Linked DNA regions of Homo sapiens: region 1 is linked to region 2. Evidence: fine-mapped expression QTL. Tissue or cell type: whole blood. Region 2 holds a variant in brackets; the other region holds the start of a gene. All regions are shown on one strand. Distances are from middle to middle.

Region 1 (8,102 bases), 190 kb after region 2:
TCCATTATTAATATCTCAATTCTGTTCTCAGCTCTGAACTCCAGATTGTTACCTATGACTGCCTACTGTACTTGGTTATCTAGTTAACATTTCAAATTTAATATGTCCACCCCATACTTGTTATCCAACCCAACTTCTCTTCTTCCAGATCAGTTAATGGTAACACCGTACACTCTGTTGATTTAGCCCCAAACCCAGGAGTCAATCTTGATTGCATTGTTTCCGTCACTCCGCACATCTATTCTCAGCAAGTCCTCTCAGAAAGACCTATCCCCCAAATCTACCTTGAATATGGGCTCTTCTTACATTTTACACTGCTGTCACCCTCATATCCATGCCTCCACTCATGTCCCTCCAGGATCTACTCTTCATCTAGCAGCTGGAGTAATTTTTAAATACATAAGTCAGATTCAACAGTCCTTTTGAATAATCTTCCAGTGGCCTCCTATTTCAGTTAAAATCGAAACTCCTTTTTCTTGGCATAAAAGACTTTACATGATCTGGCTCTTCTTGCCTTTAACATTCTCTCCATCCTTCTCTTTCTCTCTCTCTTTTTTTTTATTATTTTTTTTTATTTTTTATTTTTGGAGACAGAGCCTTGCTCTGTCGCCCAGCCTGGAGTGCAGTGGCATGATCTCAACTGACTGCAACCTCCGCCTCCCGGGTTCAAGAGATTCTCGTGCCTCATCTTCCTAAGTAGCTGTGCCACCACGCCCGGCTAATTTTTGTATTTTTAGTAGAGACGGGGTTTTGCCATGTTGGCCATGCTGGTCTTGAACTCCTGGCCTCAAGTGATCCGCCCACCTTGGCCTCCCAAAGTGCTGGGATTACAGGCATGAGCCACTGCACCCGACCTGGCATTGACCAATAACTTTGAAATGCCATTATCTCCTCTACAGTGTTTGAAGTATGCACTCTATTTGTACCAATTAAGTGGCTGTCCCTTACTCTTTCACCATGTATATGTAAAGCCTCAAGGTAATCAATAGCTGTACCCTTAAAACACTGGAATACTGATAACCAGCTTCCCATCTTAAATGGTATTTTCATTCAATATTTTAGATCTACTCTATTTGTTTACTCTCCGAATTAGACATTATTTTGCATAATCAATGTTTGTTTAGATTTCCTTCATACTTACTTTTTTCTCTTTTTTTTTTTTTTTTTGGCTTACAACTCCCTCTTATACCTCAGACTTTCCTCTTGGTGTTATTTTCCTTCCTATGGTATGGGTTTGTTGGAGGTTAATACTTTTATTTTTTGTTTGACCAAAATTGTCTTGATTTTGTCCTTTTCCATGATAATTGTAGTCTATAAAAAAGATTTTAGGTGAATTTTGAAAGTATCATGCCACTAACCTCTGGCTTCTACTATTGCTGTTGAGAAACCAGCTGTCATTTTAACTGGTTTTCTTTTATAGGTACAGTCATGCATTGCTTAATGACAGGGATATGTTCTGAGAAATGCATCACTAGGTGACTTCGTCACTGTGCAAACATCACAGAGTGAACTTACACAAACCTAGATGGTATAGTCTACTACACACCTAGGCTCTATGGTACAACCTATTGCTCCTGTGCTACCAACCTGTACAGAATGTTATTGTACTGAATACTGTAAGCAGCTGTAGCACAGTGGTATTTCTGTATCTAAACATATCAAAACATAAGAAAGACACTTAAAATACAGTATACTGATGGCTCATGCCTGTTATCCTAGCACTTTGGAAGGCCTAGGTGGGCAGAGCACTTGAGCCCAGGAGTTCAAGACCAGCCTGGGCCACATGGCAAAACCTCATCACTACAAAAAATACGGAAAAAAAAAAATAGTGGAGTGTGGTAGCATATGTCTGCAGTCCCAACTACTCAGAAGGCTAAGTGGGGAGGATCACCTGAGACCAGGAGGTAGAAGTCACAGTGAGCTGAGATCATGTCACTGCACTCCAGCCTAGGCAACAGGGTGGGATTTTGTCTCAAAACAAAACAGTATAAAAGAAAAAAAAAGTACACCTGTGTAGGGCACTTACCATGAATGGAGCTTACAGGAATAGGAGTTGCTCTGGGTGAGTCAGTGAGTGAGTGGTGAGTGAATGTGAAGGCCTAAGACATGGCTATACACTACTGTAGACGTTATAAACATTGTACGCTCTAAGCTACACTAAATTTATATGAAAAAAAATTCTTTGTTGGCTGGGTATAGGTGGCTCATGCCTGTAATCCCAGCATGGGAGGCTGAGGCAGCATTTATTTTTTTAAATGGGTGTCCTGTGTCTTTATTTGTGAAATCTGGCAACTCTCCACTCCATCTGCTGCCCCTCACTCACTGTGCTCCAGCCACACAGTCCTTGCCGTTCATCAGATGCTCCTTCCCAGTCTGAGCCTTTATGCTTGCTTTTCCCTTGCCTAGAACATTTTTATTCCAGATCTTCCCACAGCTGTCTCCATGTCATTCAGATCTCAGCTCAAATGTCACCCTATCCTGATTTCACTTCCCTGTCAGTCTCCATCATCATTCTTTATAAAATTTAACACTTTCTGAAACTATTATTCATTAGTTTACTTGTATATTTGTCCTGTCTCCCCTTAGTAGAATGTAAGCTTCATGAGAGCAAAGGCCTTGTTAGTTGCTGTATCCCCAACACCTGACGCCAATGTCTGGCTCTTAGTAGACACTCGATAAATATCTGTTAGATGAATGTATGACACCCCAAATCCTGTTCTGCAAGATTTAAATTTAAGAAGACCTGTTAGGGGTAGACCGGCTGGCCTTAACAAGAACAAAAGTTTTGAAAAAGTCAGTATGGATCCAAAACAAAATTGCCTTGAAGAAAGGGCTAGTCTGTGTTGTGGGTGGCTGATGCTGGAAGATCCTCCAGACTCAGTCTTTCCTCGCAGGATTATGCTCCAGTGAGCAATGATTGAATGAGGAAATGGAAGTACCTGGCTTACCTTGGCACTGAGTCTTCTTATGCCGTTGAGGACCTCTGGAGGGACAGTGATTTGACTGCAACCCTCGTAGCAGCAAGAAACAATGAGGTAGCTAACTTCCTGCTGGTATGCAGAAGTCAGGGAGCGCTCCCCATCCCACTTGTACCCCCACAAATCCAGAGGACTTAGAGACAATTCAATATGAAAGGGAAACCTCAGAGAAGGAGCATGTGTGGCTTGAGCTAGTTTTAATAAAATCTAGTAAAAATGTAAGAGCCAGGTTGCTAATTACACCTCCGGTTCAAGATCAGGGAGGCTATAGATGGCATGTTGGGAATCTGGAAATGGGCAGAAAAATAAGTAATTAGGTATTGGCTAAGAGAGAGAAAATGCTGAAATAAATGGATGGAAGCAGGTGGGGAGTAGATCTGGATGGGGCTTGTAGACCACATTAAGAAGCCTGGACTTTATCCAGAGGGCATGTGGGAGCCACATGGATTCTAAGCCAAGGAGTGACTCTAGTCTCTGGATCTCATATGTACTTGGAGAAATCCTCTGTACTTCTGCGAATTAAAGAGAACAACGCTGCAGCTGAGACCAGTTAGAAACAGTCTATTGAACAAAGATGATGAAAGTTTGAATAATAATGATCATTTTAATCACAGCAGACGAATTAAACCAGGCATTTCCTAAGCCCATTACATACTTAATTTTGTTTATGCAATAGCAACCCTACCAAAGTGGCACTAGTGTTAACATCTCCATTTTACAGGTAAGGTAAAGAAGTTGTGAGGGTAAGTAATTTGCCCAAGATCTCTCAGAACCCAGGTTTCTCTGACTGCAGTGCTCTCTTCATTCCCTTAGACTAAGGCATCAGGAGTGGGGAGGAAAAGGAGGCAGATGTGAAAAACATTTAGGAGGTAAGTAATAGTTATTATATTAGCACTAGATAATGACGATGGTGATGATGATGACAATGATGATGACGGTAAGGGGGATTTCATGCCTTTATACATTCAAGAACAACACCAGATTCGGTGTCGGAGAAGAGATAAAATTAAGGTATTGGCGTTGAGCTAACAGTTTAATACGATATAAAACTTCCCAAAGGGAGGGGTCACAACGCCTCTCCTGTCCATTGCCCCCAATTCACCGCAAAAGTCGCTCCTGCCTGGGCTCCCCGGCAGTGCCACACGCAGGACCTCGGGCGCCGACACCGCCCCGCCCCTGGCCGCGCCCCGCCCCGGCCACTGTCCCTCCTCCGAAGCCGCGCCCCTCCCCGCCCTGCCCCGGCCCCGGCCCCGGCCCCGGCCCCAAAGCCCCGGGCCTGCCATCTCGCCCCGCCCTGCCCCGCCCCGCCGCGGCTCCCCCGACCCCAGGCCTGCATTCTCGCCCCGCCTTGCCCCTCCCCTCCCCTGCCACGCCCCAACCCTTGAACTGCCTTCGCGCCCCGCCTTGCCCTGCCTTGCCCCGCCTTGCCCCGCCCCGCCCCGCCCCGCCATCTCGCCCCGCCCCGCCCCTCACCTCCCTTCCCCTCCCCGCCGCTCTCGTGGCCCCCACCTCCAGGGGCGCCTCTGCGGGCCACGTGGTTCGGCGTCCGCGCGCAAGCGGCTCTTGGCGCCGCGCTTCCGGGTTGGCTGTGGCTGTGGCTGCGGCGGCGGCGCAGGAGCAGAAACCGGTGCGGCGCAGAAGCCCCAGAGGCGGGCGGGGCGGAGCGGAGGGCCAGCGGGCCCCGGCGTGGGTCTCCCGCCAGGCCGCCGGGTGAGTTGGCAGCGACCCGGACCCCACCGGGCGCCCCTGAGCGGTAGGTCTGCCGCGCCGACCCCTCCCCCGCCGTGTGCTCCCCAGTCGGGCCCGCGGGGCCTGGGCGGGGAGGTGGGGGTCTTTCCGCGCCACCTCTCCCTGCTGGGACCACCCGGGGCTGCGGGGGGCTCCGCGCCGCCCCTAGTGTGTCTGGCGGCCCCACGCAGCTTAAGTTATTAGTATTTTATTGCAGCTACCTCACATTCACTTTGCACGTGCACATTTCTTCACTCTTCACATTGGTTCCCACATACGAAATGGCTAATAATCTGGGAGATGGAGGCAGCTTCGTTCTCCCTGAAATAGTTGTGCAACCATAGAAAGTTCGTGCTTGCGGAGGATTTTGGAGATGGTTAATCCCATTCCTTCATTTTATAGAAGGTAGACCCTGAACCGTTCCATGAATACTGGAGAGTCACTCAGCTAGTTAATGTGCGGCAGGAGGCTGAGGGAGAGAATTGCTTGAACCTGGGAGGCGGAGGTTGCAGTGAGCCGAGATTGCGCCACTGCACTCCAGCCTGGGCGATAGAGCGAGACTCCGTCTCAAAAAAAAAAAACCGCGAGCTAAGTTGTTTTGTTTTTGTTTTTTGAGGTGGTGGTCTCGTTCTGTCGCCCAGGCTGGAGTGCAGTGGCACGATCACGGCTCACGGCAACCTCGAACTCCCAGGCTCAGGTGATGCTCCTGCCGCAGCCTCCTGAGTAGCTGGGACCACAGGCGGGCGCCACCACGCCAGGCTAATTTTTGTATTTTTTGTATAGATGAATTCTCTCCATGTTGCCCAGGCTGGTCTCAAGTGATCCGTCGGCCTCGGCCTCCCAAAGTGCTGGGATTACAGGCGTGAGGCCACTGCGCCCGGGCCCAGAGCTAAGTTTGTAGACAGACAAAAATGGTAATGGTAAAATTCAGTTAATGATGTGAAGTGAATAGGAAGTTCATGTGGGCTGGCATTAACCTTTTAGACAGTGCTTTCTCCTTTTTAAACCTTGTTTTCTTATTTCAGATTTAACCCTTAGTGGCTTCTGAAGAAAATGGCAGAAACATCGCCAGAGCCTTCTGGGCAGCTTGTTGTACACTCAGACGCTCACAGTGACACTGTGCTGGCCAGTTTTGAGGATCAGAGGAAGAAAGGCTTCCTCTGTGACATTACTTTAATCGTGGAGAATGTACATTTCCGGGCCCACAAAGCCTTACTTGCTGCCAGTAGTGAATACTTCTCAATGATGTTTGCAGAAGAGGGGGAAATCGGCCAATCCATTTATATGCTGGAAGGCATGGTTGCAGACACCTTTGGTATCCTGCTGGAATTTATCTACACAGGTTATCTCCATGCCAGTGAGAAAAGTACAGAACAAATCCTGGCTACTGCTCAGTTCTTAAAAGTCTATGACCTGGTAAAGGCTTACACAGACTTCCAAAATAATCATAGCTCCCCAAAGCCAACAACTTTGAACACTGCTGGTGCCCCAGTGGTTGTTATCTCTAATAAGAAAAACGATCCTCCAAAGCGGAAACGGGGAAGACCAAAAAAAGTCAATACATTGCAGGAGGAGAAATCAGAACTGGCTGCAGAGGAAGAAATACAGTTAAGAGTGAACAATTCAGTTCAGAATAGACAAAACTTTGTGGTTAAAGGAGACAGTGGTGTACTGAATGAGCAAATTGCAGCAAAAGAAAAGGAAGAATCGGAGCCTACTTGTGAGCCAAGTAGAGAGGAGGAAATGCCAGTTGAAAAAGATGAGAACTATGATCCCAAGACCGAGGATGGCCAGGCAAGCCAGAGTCGATACAGCAAGCGGAGGATTTGGAGATCCGTCAAACTTAAAGATTACAAACTTGTTGGGGATCAAGAGGACCATGGTTCAGCCAAGAGGATCTGTGGAAGGAGAAAGCGCCCTGGAGGCCCTGAGGCCCGCTGTAAAGACTGTGGCAAGGTCTTTAAGTACAATCACTTTTTAGCAATCCACCAGAGGAGCCACACAGGTAATGATGTTTTCAAAGCTGATTGCAGTGTGTTGCAGAATTGGGAGTAGTGATGATAATAATAGCTTCCATTTACTGTGCAACTTCTGTGTGATGGGCATTGTAATAAAGCCTTTATACATGTTATTGCAGTTAATTTTCTCCACAATCCTGCAAGGTGGGTAATATCCTCATTATACATTGTATGATTAAAATCATATTTACTCATATGTAAGAGAGGGTTGCTAAAGTGCATAGTTTACAGATGAAGCAACCAAGTTCTAGGGAGCTTAAATAACTTGCCAGAGTCACCCGTTAGTGACAGAGCTGGGATTGAACCCAGGTAGCCTGGTTCAAGAACCCCTCTCATTTGTAGTTGTTGAATGAATCCTTTAATGTCCACTTATCAAGATCTAGCCCAATGTACCCTGCTTTCTGATTCTTGAACATTCTTCATCTTGACCATAACCATGCTTTTGCCCAAGTCTGTGTAGATCACTTTGTAACTCAGCTATCTAGCTTTAAATACCTTCTCATTTTTGGTCCCTCTAGCCCAGCGCTGACCAATGGGACCCTTCTGTGATGATGGAAATGTTCCTACATCTCTGATGTCCAATATGGTGGCCAGTAACCACATGTGGTTTTTGAGCACTTGAACTGTGGCTAGCGTGACTGAGAAACTGAATTTTAAATTTTATTTTAATTCATTTAAATTTGAATAACCACATGTGGCTAGTGGCTACCGTATTGGACACTGCAGTCCTAGTGAGAAATCCCTTCCTCCTTTGAGCCCTTTCAGGTGCTTAAAACCCACTCTGCTTTGGATCAGATTGTTGTTACCACTTGTATATCCCTCAACTTAATTGTAATCTTAAGTATAGGGACTGGGGCTTAAGTCTTCTCCTGTGATCCAGCAGTATCTGGTGCTGTGGTTCTCAGCCTGCAAATTGGAATCACTTAGGGAGCTTCTAAAACTACCAGTGCCTAGACCTCCACCCCAGAGCTTCTGATTTAGTTGTCTGGAGCCTTGGTGCTTTTAAAAGCTCCCTAAAGACTTTAGCTACAGATAGGTTGAAGAGCTTGAATTCAGGTACTTCGAACAAAGTGGATACTTGAGAAATATTTGTTGAACTGTAATAGGTTATATTTTAGCTTTTTTTTTTTTTTTTTTTTTTTTTTTGAGATGGATTCTCGCTCTGTCACCCAGGCTAGAGTGCAGTGGCGCGATCTCGGCTCACCGCAACCTCCGCCTCCCGAGTTCAAGTGATTCTCCTGCCTCAGCCTCCTGAGTAGCTGGGATTACAGGCACACGCCACCACGCCCAGCTAATTTTTTGTATTTTTAGTAGAGACGGGGTTTCACCATGTTGGTCAGGCTGGTCTCAAACTCCTGACCTCGTGATCTGCCTGCCT
Region 2 (8,104 bases):
AAATGGAGATAATTATACAGTGAATGCCCATATACTCACCATCTAGAGTCTGTGATTAACGTTTTGCTATATTTGCTTTATCACACATTTGTCCACCTATCAACCCAGTGAATATTATCTGCTTGGGTTTTTATTTATATTTAATTTAATTAATTATTATTTTTTTTTTTTGTAGAGACATGGTCTTGCTTTGTTGCCCAGGCTGGTTTCAAACTCCTGGGCTCAAACAGTCTTCCCACCTTGGCCTCCCAAAGTACTAGATTACAGGTGTGAGCCACAACACCCGGCCCAATATTATTTTTATAACAGCATTATCAATCCAATAATGTTTTGCCCTTCTGTTTGTCCTAGTTTTGTTCATAGCATTTATGAAATGTCATCAACTCTATTCTACTACCTCCAATTCTCTATTCGTAATTTAGAACTGTTTGGGATATGTGTGTTTGGGTGTCTTTTTATGAAAGCTCAAATGAGATGGAACTCTCACAGCTTTTCTTAGGAACATTTTTCAGAACTTAATTGTCTTCAATGATAACTTTTATTTTTTATTTATAAATTTTCTTGCATTCTTTGCAATATATAAGAGAATGGGTTGATATCTTTATATATAAATATTCTTTTAATTAATAAAACTATTTATGCCCTAATAGAAAAATAAGAAAAAGAATGAATAGGCAATTCATAAAAGTAGAAATAAAAATAAACAATATAAGAAAAGAGAGTTTAACATCATTCTAAGAAATGTTAATCAACATAACACTGGTCCATATTTGCCTATCAAATTGGCAGTGAATCTTTACAATTACTACAATCACTGTAGGTAAGGATGTTATGAAATGGGCATTCCACATGCTGTTAGTAAAGTTGCAATCTGGTACAATTTTTTTGGAGAACAATTTGTAATACATAACACACACACACTCACACACACACACAACTCTAAAAGTTTCTTCTTTCTTTGTTCAAAAAGTTTACTTCTAGGAAATCTTAAAGAATACCAAACATCCCATAGATTATTAATAACTAATGATATAACAACTCTCCTGGGTCCTCCCCTGGGTCATGCCCCTGTCATTCCTATCCCAGGATGTCCTCTATCAAGGAATGATACATTTCCTCTTTTAAAGGAAATAAATCATTGGAATTTCAGCCTCAAGACCCCTCTTTCTAATCAGTGTTTACCCATTTTAACATTTCTTGATTCATTTCCTTTTACACCATGTGCAAAACTAGCAGGCTTTGGATGTAATTGTATGGTTATGAAAATCTGGATTAATTAATACCAGTGCATACTTTTGTAACTAAATGATTTAGAAATCACTGTCATATACACCACCTGATTTCATCCTTACGTTCTATTGTACACTACACAGTACATATGCATCCAAGGTGCAGAGGCGTTTACAGAGTTAACTCCCCCAGGATTCTTTATTTTTTTATTTTTTATTTTTATTTTGAGACACGCCCTCACTTTGTCATCCAGGCTGGAGTGCAGTGACATGATCACGGCTCTCTGCAAACTTGACCTCCTGGGCTCAAGTGATCACCCCACGTCAGCTTCCTGAGTAGCAGGGACTATAGGCATGCACCATAACTATGCCCTGCTAATTTTTTAACTTTTTGTAGGAATGTAGTCTCCCTATGTTGCCTAGGCTGGTCTCAAACTTCTGGGCTCAAGCAATCCTCCTGCCTTGAACTCCCAAAGTACTGGGATTGCAGACATGAGTCACCATGTTCGCTTCTCCAAGATTCTTAAGCTTAGTAAGTGGCAGAGACAAGTTCTCTATGGAAGACATTCTGCTGCTTCTGCTTTGGTTAGGCTTAAGTGAAGTAATATGCATACATTTGCATTGTAAATTATAAAGTGATGCACAAATGTTAATCTTTGTTACCAGTTACAAGACACTAGAATGTGTTTCTTATTTTGGTGATCTTAATATCAGTCTGTATTAATATTTTGAATTCATGTTTTAGCTTTGCCAATTTTAGAAGAACAGATTGCTGCTGAAACCGAATCAGGAGTTATGGTAAACAAACCTAAATTTCAAAGTAACTATGATTACAAAAAAAGCTCTGTATCATAGATATATTATACAGTAATGTACAATATCTATGCTTGTCCTTAGTTGCAATCAATGTTGATCAGCGGTCAAAGCATTCCAGATGAACTTGTCATAAAGCTAATGTTGGAGAAGCTCAACTCCCCAGAAGTCTGTCACTTTGGTATGTTTATTTTAATATATTTACAGCCCACAAAGCAGCCTTAAAACTCATGCTTTATCTGAGGCAAAAATAGTTTCTGGAGTTGCCCTTTCTTTTGCCTTAGCATAAGAATCTCATTATCTCTATTCAGTTGAACAGCTCAGATGGTTTTATTTGCTTGTTTTTATTTCTCAGATTGTACATTTGTTTTAAAAATAAGTTTATATGACCCAATCTTCTTTAACATTGTGTTATCCAGTAAAAGCATCAGAAATCTGCTGTGGTCCATCTTGCAGTACTGCTAACTCTGCTGACTGCTTCCTCATACACCTTGGGTTATATTGCTAAGTCCTGACAATGGCTAGGGTTGTCTGCATTAATCCACACTTAGAAGGCGGGAGTGGGAAGTGGAATGCCACTATCTTACTGTTGAGCTCCAGATATTGTCAGGCTTCAGCCTGTTCTTCCAGTCTGCCCTCTGACTCTGGACCTGAAACCTCTCCTGGTACTCAAATGGATGCTGAGCAAGGGCTTTGGATCTAATTTTTCAAGACAAAGACCACTGAAGCTCAAAATGATTAAAAAGAAAAGAGCAAACTCTAATACCTCTGCAAAAGAAGAGGAGAAGAATAATGACAAGTTTGGGATAAAATCATCCACCTGAAATGGATTTACTGAATGAAAAAAGAAAAATTAAGAAAGTTGTTTTATATTCTTAGTAAGTTAGAAGAAGACATTGTAACTATTAATGCAGGAATAAAAATACAGGAAAGTAAAAACCATAACTGCCAAAGCAAATCAATGATGGAAGCAGCAAACGCAGCCTTGTCAAACTGTATTTACTGGTTTCTATCTATAGACAAAAAGATTCCTTTTCATATAGCTCATGTGTATAGAGAGATGATACATAGAATGTCCCATATCCACATATGTAGACAGGTCTCTATATGGATATATGGGTTTTTATATATAATACATATATAGAGATTAATATATATGGATTATAAATACATTATAAGTAGATAAGGTTTCTCTGTAAACTATCTACCTATCTATCCACTTATTACCTATTTGTTCAGCAGTGATAAAGAGACTGAACGGCAAAATATCCAGAATATGGAAGGCTGGATAAGTAAAAAGGCAAACAGGAATCACAGAATTCCAAATTACGTCAATAAATGACCTCAGAAAACATAGTATTTGAAACAGATATGTATATAGGTAGGTAAGTAAATACCTATTTGTTAACCTCACTTACCTCTTGAAAAACTTAAATTGGTTTACATGGCTACAAAAAAGATGACATAAATTATAAGTATTGGCAAAAGGAGAAAGAAAAAAAAACAACACGAAGAAACTCAGTTGTGCCTCTCATGGTGTTCATAATGTTTTACAGTTGTTATTAGGAAATAGTTCAAACAAAAGTAGGGAGATTAGTATAAAGATGCTTCCACATTACCACTCAGGTTCAGCATATGTCCAAAACCAACTCTAGTCTAATCTCGTTTCATCTACACTTCTACTTACTCCCTTCTCTCAACCTATGTTATTTTGAAGCTAATCCATATCATATCAGTTCATCTGTATAATGTTCCATTTATATCTCTAAAAGAAAAGGACACTTAAACCTATTACACATTACCATTATCACACCTAAAAAATTAATTGTTATTCCTTGATATCATCTACTAGATTTCATTAATTACCTCATAGATATTTTTTAGTTGATTTTTTTTGAAGCAGGATCTAACCAGGTTTCACATAGTACAAGTGATTAGTATGTCTCAAGTCTCTTTATATATAAGTTTCCCCTACTTCTTTCTATCTTATTGTTTCTTCTCTGATGAAGAAAACAGGTCATTTGTCTTGTAGAGTTTCCCACATTCTGGATTTGGCTGATTGCATTCCTCAGACCCCAGTACTTCCTGTATGCCGATACTTGTCCTAGGAGCTGGCAGAGGAAAAGTGATATAAATGGTTTCCTGAGTCTGGGGGCCACACCCTCACCATTTGGTTACAAGGCCACGTTCTAGGCATGCACAAACGAGCTCATTTAAAGGTTGCAGTGGAGATGGAACCTAAAGCGCCTTCTGCCCAGCCACCCCTTAACCCATCCTGTAGCATCCCACAGGAATTGTTTTAGAACCTAGCACTCGGCTAAATACAGTTTGAAAATCTTTGCCCAAATTCCCAGCAAGGCGTCTCATCCTGATGTTTGCTCTCAACCCGTAGCCTGGTAGAAGGTAGAAGCAAAATTGGAAGTGAAGGGTTTTCAAAACAGGGATATAAACTTGATTAGGTCAATAGATGCAGAAAAGGCCTTTGACAAAATTCAACAGCCCTTCATGCTAAAAACTCTCAATAAATTAGGTATAGATGGGATGTATCTAATCATAATTAAGCTATTTATGACAAACCCACAGCCAATATCATACTGAATGGGCAAAAACTGGAAGCATTCCTTTTGAAAACTGGCACAAGACAGGGATGCCCTCTCTCACCACTCCTATTCAACATAGTGTTGGAAGTTCTGGCCAGGGCAGTCAGGCAGGAGAAAGAAATAAAGGGTATTCAATT[C/A]GGAAAAGAGGAAGTCAAATTGTCCCTGTTTGCAGATGACATGATTGTATACCTAGAAAACCCCATCGTCTCAGCCCAAAATCTCCTCAAGCTGATAAGCAACTTCAGCAAAGTCTCAGGATACAAAATCAATGTGCAAAAATCACAAGCATTCTTATACACCAATAACAAACAGCCAAATCATGAGTGAACTCCCATTCACAATTGCTTCGAAGAGAATAAAATACCTAGGAATCCAACTTACAAGGGATGTGAAGGACCTCTTCAAGGAGAACTACAAACCACTGCTCAATGAAATAAAAGAGGACACAAACAAATGGAAGAACATTCCATGCTCATGGATAGGAAGAATCAATGTCGTGAAAATGGCCATACTGCCCAAGGTAATTTATAGATTCAATGCCATCCCCATCAAGCTACCAATGACTTTTCACAGAATTGGAAAAAACTACTTTAAAGTTCATATGGAACCAAAAAAGAGCTGGCATCGCCAAGGCAATCCTAAGCCAAAAGAACAAAGCTGGAGGCGTCACGCTACCTGACTTCAAACTATACTACAAGGCTACAGTAACCAAAACAGTGTGGTACTGGTACCAAAACAGAGATATAGACCAATGGAACAGAACAGAGGCCTCAGAAATAATGCCGCAGATCTACAACTATCTGATCTTTGACAAATCTGACAAAAACAAGCAATGGGGAAAGGATTCCCTATTTAATAAATGGTGCTGGGAAAACTGGCTAGCCATATGTAGAAAGCTGAAACTGGATCCCTTCCTTACACCTCATACAAAAATTAATTCAAGATGGATTAAAGACTTAAATGTTAGACCTACAACCATAAAAACCCTAGAAGAAAACCTAGGCAATACCATTCAGGACAGAGGCATGGGCAAGGACTTCATGTCTAAAATACCAAAAGCAATGGCAACAAAAGTCAAAATTGACAAATGAAATCTAATTAAACTAAAGAGCTTTTGCCCAGCAAAAGAAACTACCATCAGAGTGAACAGGCAACCTACAGAATGGGAGAAAATTTTTGCAACCTACTCATCTGACAATGGGCCAATATCCAGAATCTACAAAGAACTCAAACAAATTTACAAGAAAAAAAAAACCCCATCAAAAAGTGGGCAAAGGATATGAACAGACACTTCTCAAAAGAAGACATTTCTGCAGCCAACAGACACATGAAAAAATGCTCATCATCACTGGCCGTCCAAGAAATGCAAATCAAAACCACAATGAGATATCATCTCACACCAGTTAGAATGGCAATCATTAAAAAGTCAGGAAACAACAGGTGCTGGAGAGGATGTGGCGAAATAGGAACACTTTTACATTGTTGGTGGGACTGTAAACTAGTTCAACCATTGTGGAAGACTGTGGCGATTCCTCAGGGATCTAGAACTAGAAATATCATTTGACCCAGCCATCCCATTACTGGGTATATAGCCAAAGGAATATAAATCATGCTGTTATAAGGACACATGCACACATATGCTTATTGTGGCACTACTCACAATAGCAAAGACTTGGAACCAACCCAGATGTCCAACGATGATAGACTGGATTAAGAAAATGTGGCACATATACATCATGCAATACTATGCAGCCATAAAAAATGATGAGTTCATGTCCTTTGTAGGTACATGGATGAAGCTGGAAACCATCATTCTCAGCAAACTATCGCAAGGACAAAAAACCAAACACCGCATGTTCTCACTCATAGGTGGGAATTGAACAATGAGAACACTTGGACACAGGAAGGGGAACATCACACACTGGAGCCTGTTGTGGGATGGGGGGAGAGGGGAGGGAAAGGATTAGGAGATATAGCTAATGTAAATGACGAGTTAATGGGTGCAGCACACCAACATGGCACACATATACATACGTAACAAACCTGCACATTGTGCACATGTACCCTAGAACTTAAAGTATGATTAAAAATAAATAAAATAAAACAAAAGAAAAAATAATTAAGCAAATGACAACTAAAATAGTAACTTCAAAATGAGATTAATGGAATAAAATAACAAAGAGAATTAAAAAAAAAAACAACTTGAGTGGGGGGCTGGGTGAGGATGGATAATTGATGACTCCAAAATCCCTGAAGAGATATGTGCACTTCCAGGGACATCACACGGCAGAGTATTGCCAAATTCATCTTAATTTTGTTTTATACTAGAGCCCTTTTAATAATTGGTGTTTCCATCACTATTTTAAAAGGGCCTACACGATCTATAATTATCTTTTCATTCACAATCTATTGTGTTGTTTTGGCCCTTAGCCAAAATCAGCTTCTCGGAGCTATATCCTTACCCAAGAGAAACAGATAGAGTCAATATGTGGCATCCTAAAAGCTCCTCACTGCTCCCTGCTTCTAGATTCTGGAAAATCTCGTTTTCCCCAGTGAATGAATAGCCCCAGTCTGGGCATTCCCTGCCCCGAGTATATCTTTATGAATAGTCTTGCAAGTCATTGGTCACCAATGTGTCCACTCATATCAGCCTGGTCTGAGGTCAGATGGGTAGAAGAGATGGCTGGACACAAGGCTACATCAGCCTGGCCAGAGGTCAGATGGGTAGCAGGGATGGCTGAACACAAAGCTACCTGATATCTCTGAATCTGTCATCACTTCAATCTGAAAGCAGTAGTCTGCCATCTTCATTTGTATGGAAATAGAAAATGCCTTCTTCCCACTGTGCCAAGAAATGGTGGCAAAGTGATGGTATGGGCCTGAGACAAGTCAGTTTCCTCTGGGCAGTGGTCTGGACAGTCTTACAGTTTCTCATTGGTTGAGCTAATGAGAACTGGGCAATGGCCTACAAAGCACCTAGTCTGCCTATGATAGAACATGCAAAGTCTCCCAGCAAGGACTGGCTTGGGGTGCGCCACTCCTCCATCGTTAGCATGGAAGGGCAAGGGCTTGGTAATGGTCTCAAGGACATGTGGGGTGGGAGCGAGGAGTTCCTCATCTGTGCTTTCATCCTCACATGTCTCTGGAATTGGAAAGGTTGACACTGGGCTCAGTAGTTCTGGTCTGTTTAACAAGCAGTGTGTCCCTGGGATCTTCCAGAATTGGGACTAGAGGACTAATCTATTCCACTTTACATCTGCAATGGTGAGACAAACTTAGATGACATAATTGTCTATCCCACACCTCCTCCCATAGATACACCCCTAGGCTCTGGAATGATAATACTAGACATCTCTCAGAGGGTAGAGCCCCACAATTCATAGCTCAGAACATTCAGGCAGCCCAAACAATGGCCTTTCAAGAGAGAGCTAGATCCATGGAAATTACTTATTCTTCTGCCAT

What was found. PIP is the estimated chance that this variant, and not a neighbour inherited with it, causes the effect.
Region 1: it holds the start of ZBTB24, and the variant in region 2 is fine-mapped to the expression of ZBTB24 in whole blood (TOPMed, PIP above 0.99).

What each region holds. Positions count from the first base shown.
Region 1 is chr6:109,479,684-109,487,785 of GRCh38, reverse strand. ZBTB24 (zinc finger and BTB domain containing 24) reads left to right here and starts at 4,567. Exons shown (of 7, transcript NM_014797.3): 1 at 4,567-4,688; 2 at 5,732-6,711. The coding sequence starts at 5,760. ZBTB24-DT (ZBTB24 divergent transcript) reads right to left here and starts at 4,142. Exons shown (of 4, transcript NR_187591.1): 1 at 2,949-4,142. RefSeq lists silencers at 4,067-4,506, 4,587-4,876 and an enhancer at 6,575-7,076.
Region 2 is chr6:109,666,038-109,674,141 of GRCh38, reverse strand. It overlaps AK9 (adenylate kinase 9), which reads left to right. Exons shown (of 41, transcript NM_001145128.3): 4 at 1,975-2,027; 5 at 2,127-2,223. Among named protein-coding and RNA genes, the nearest start is that of AK9, 21 kb to the left of the region's middle. The variant C/A (reference allele first, on the strand shown) is at 4,780.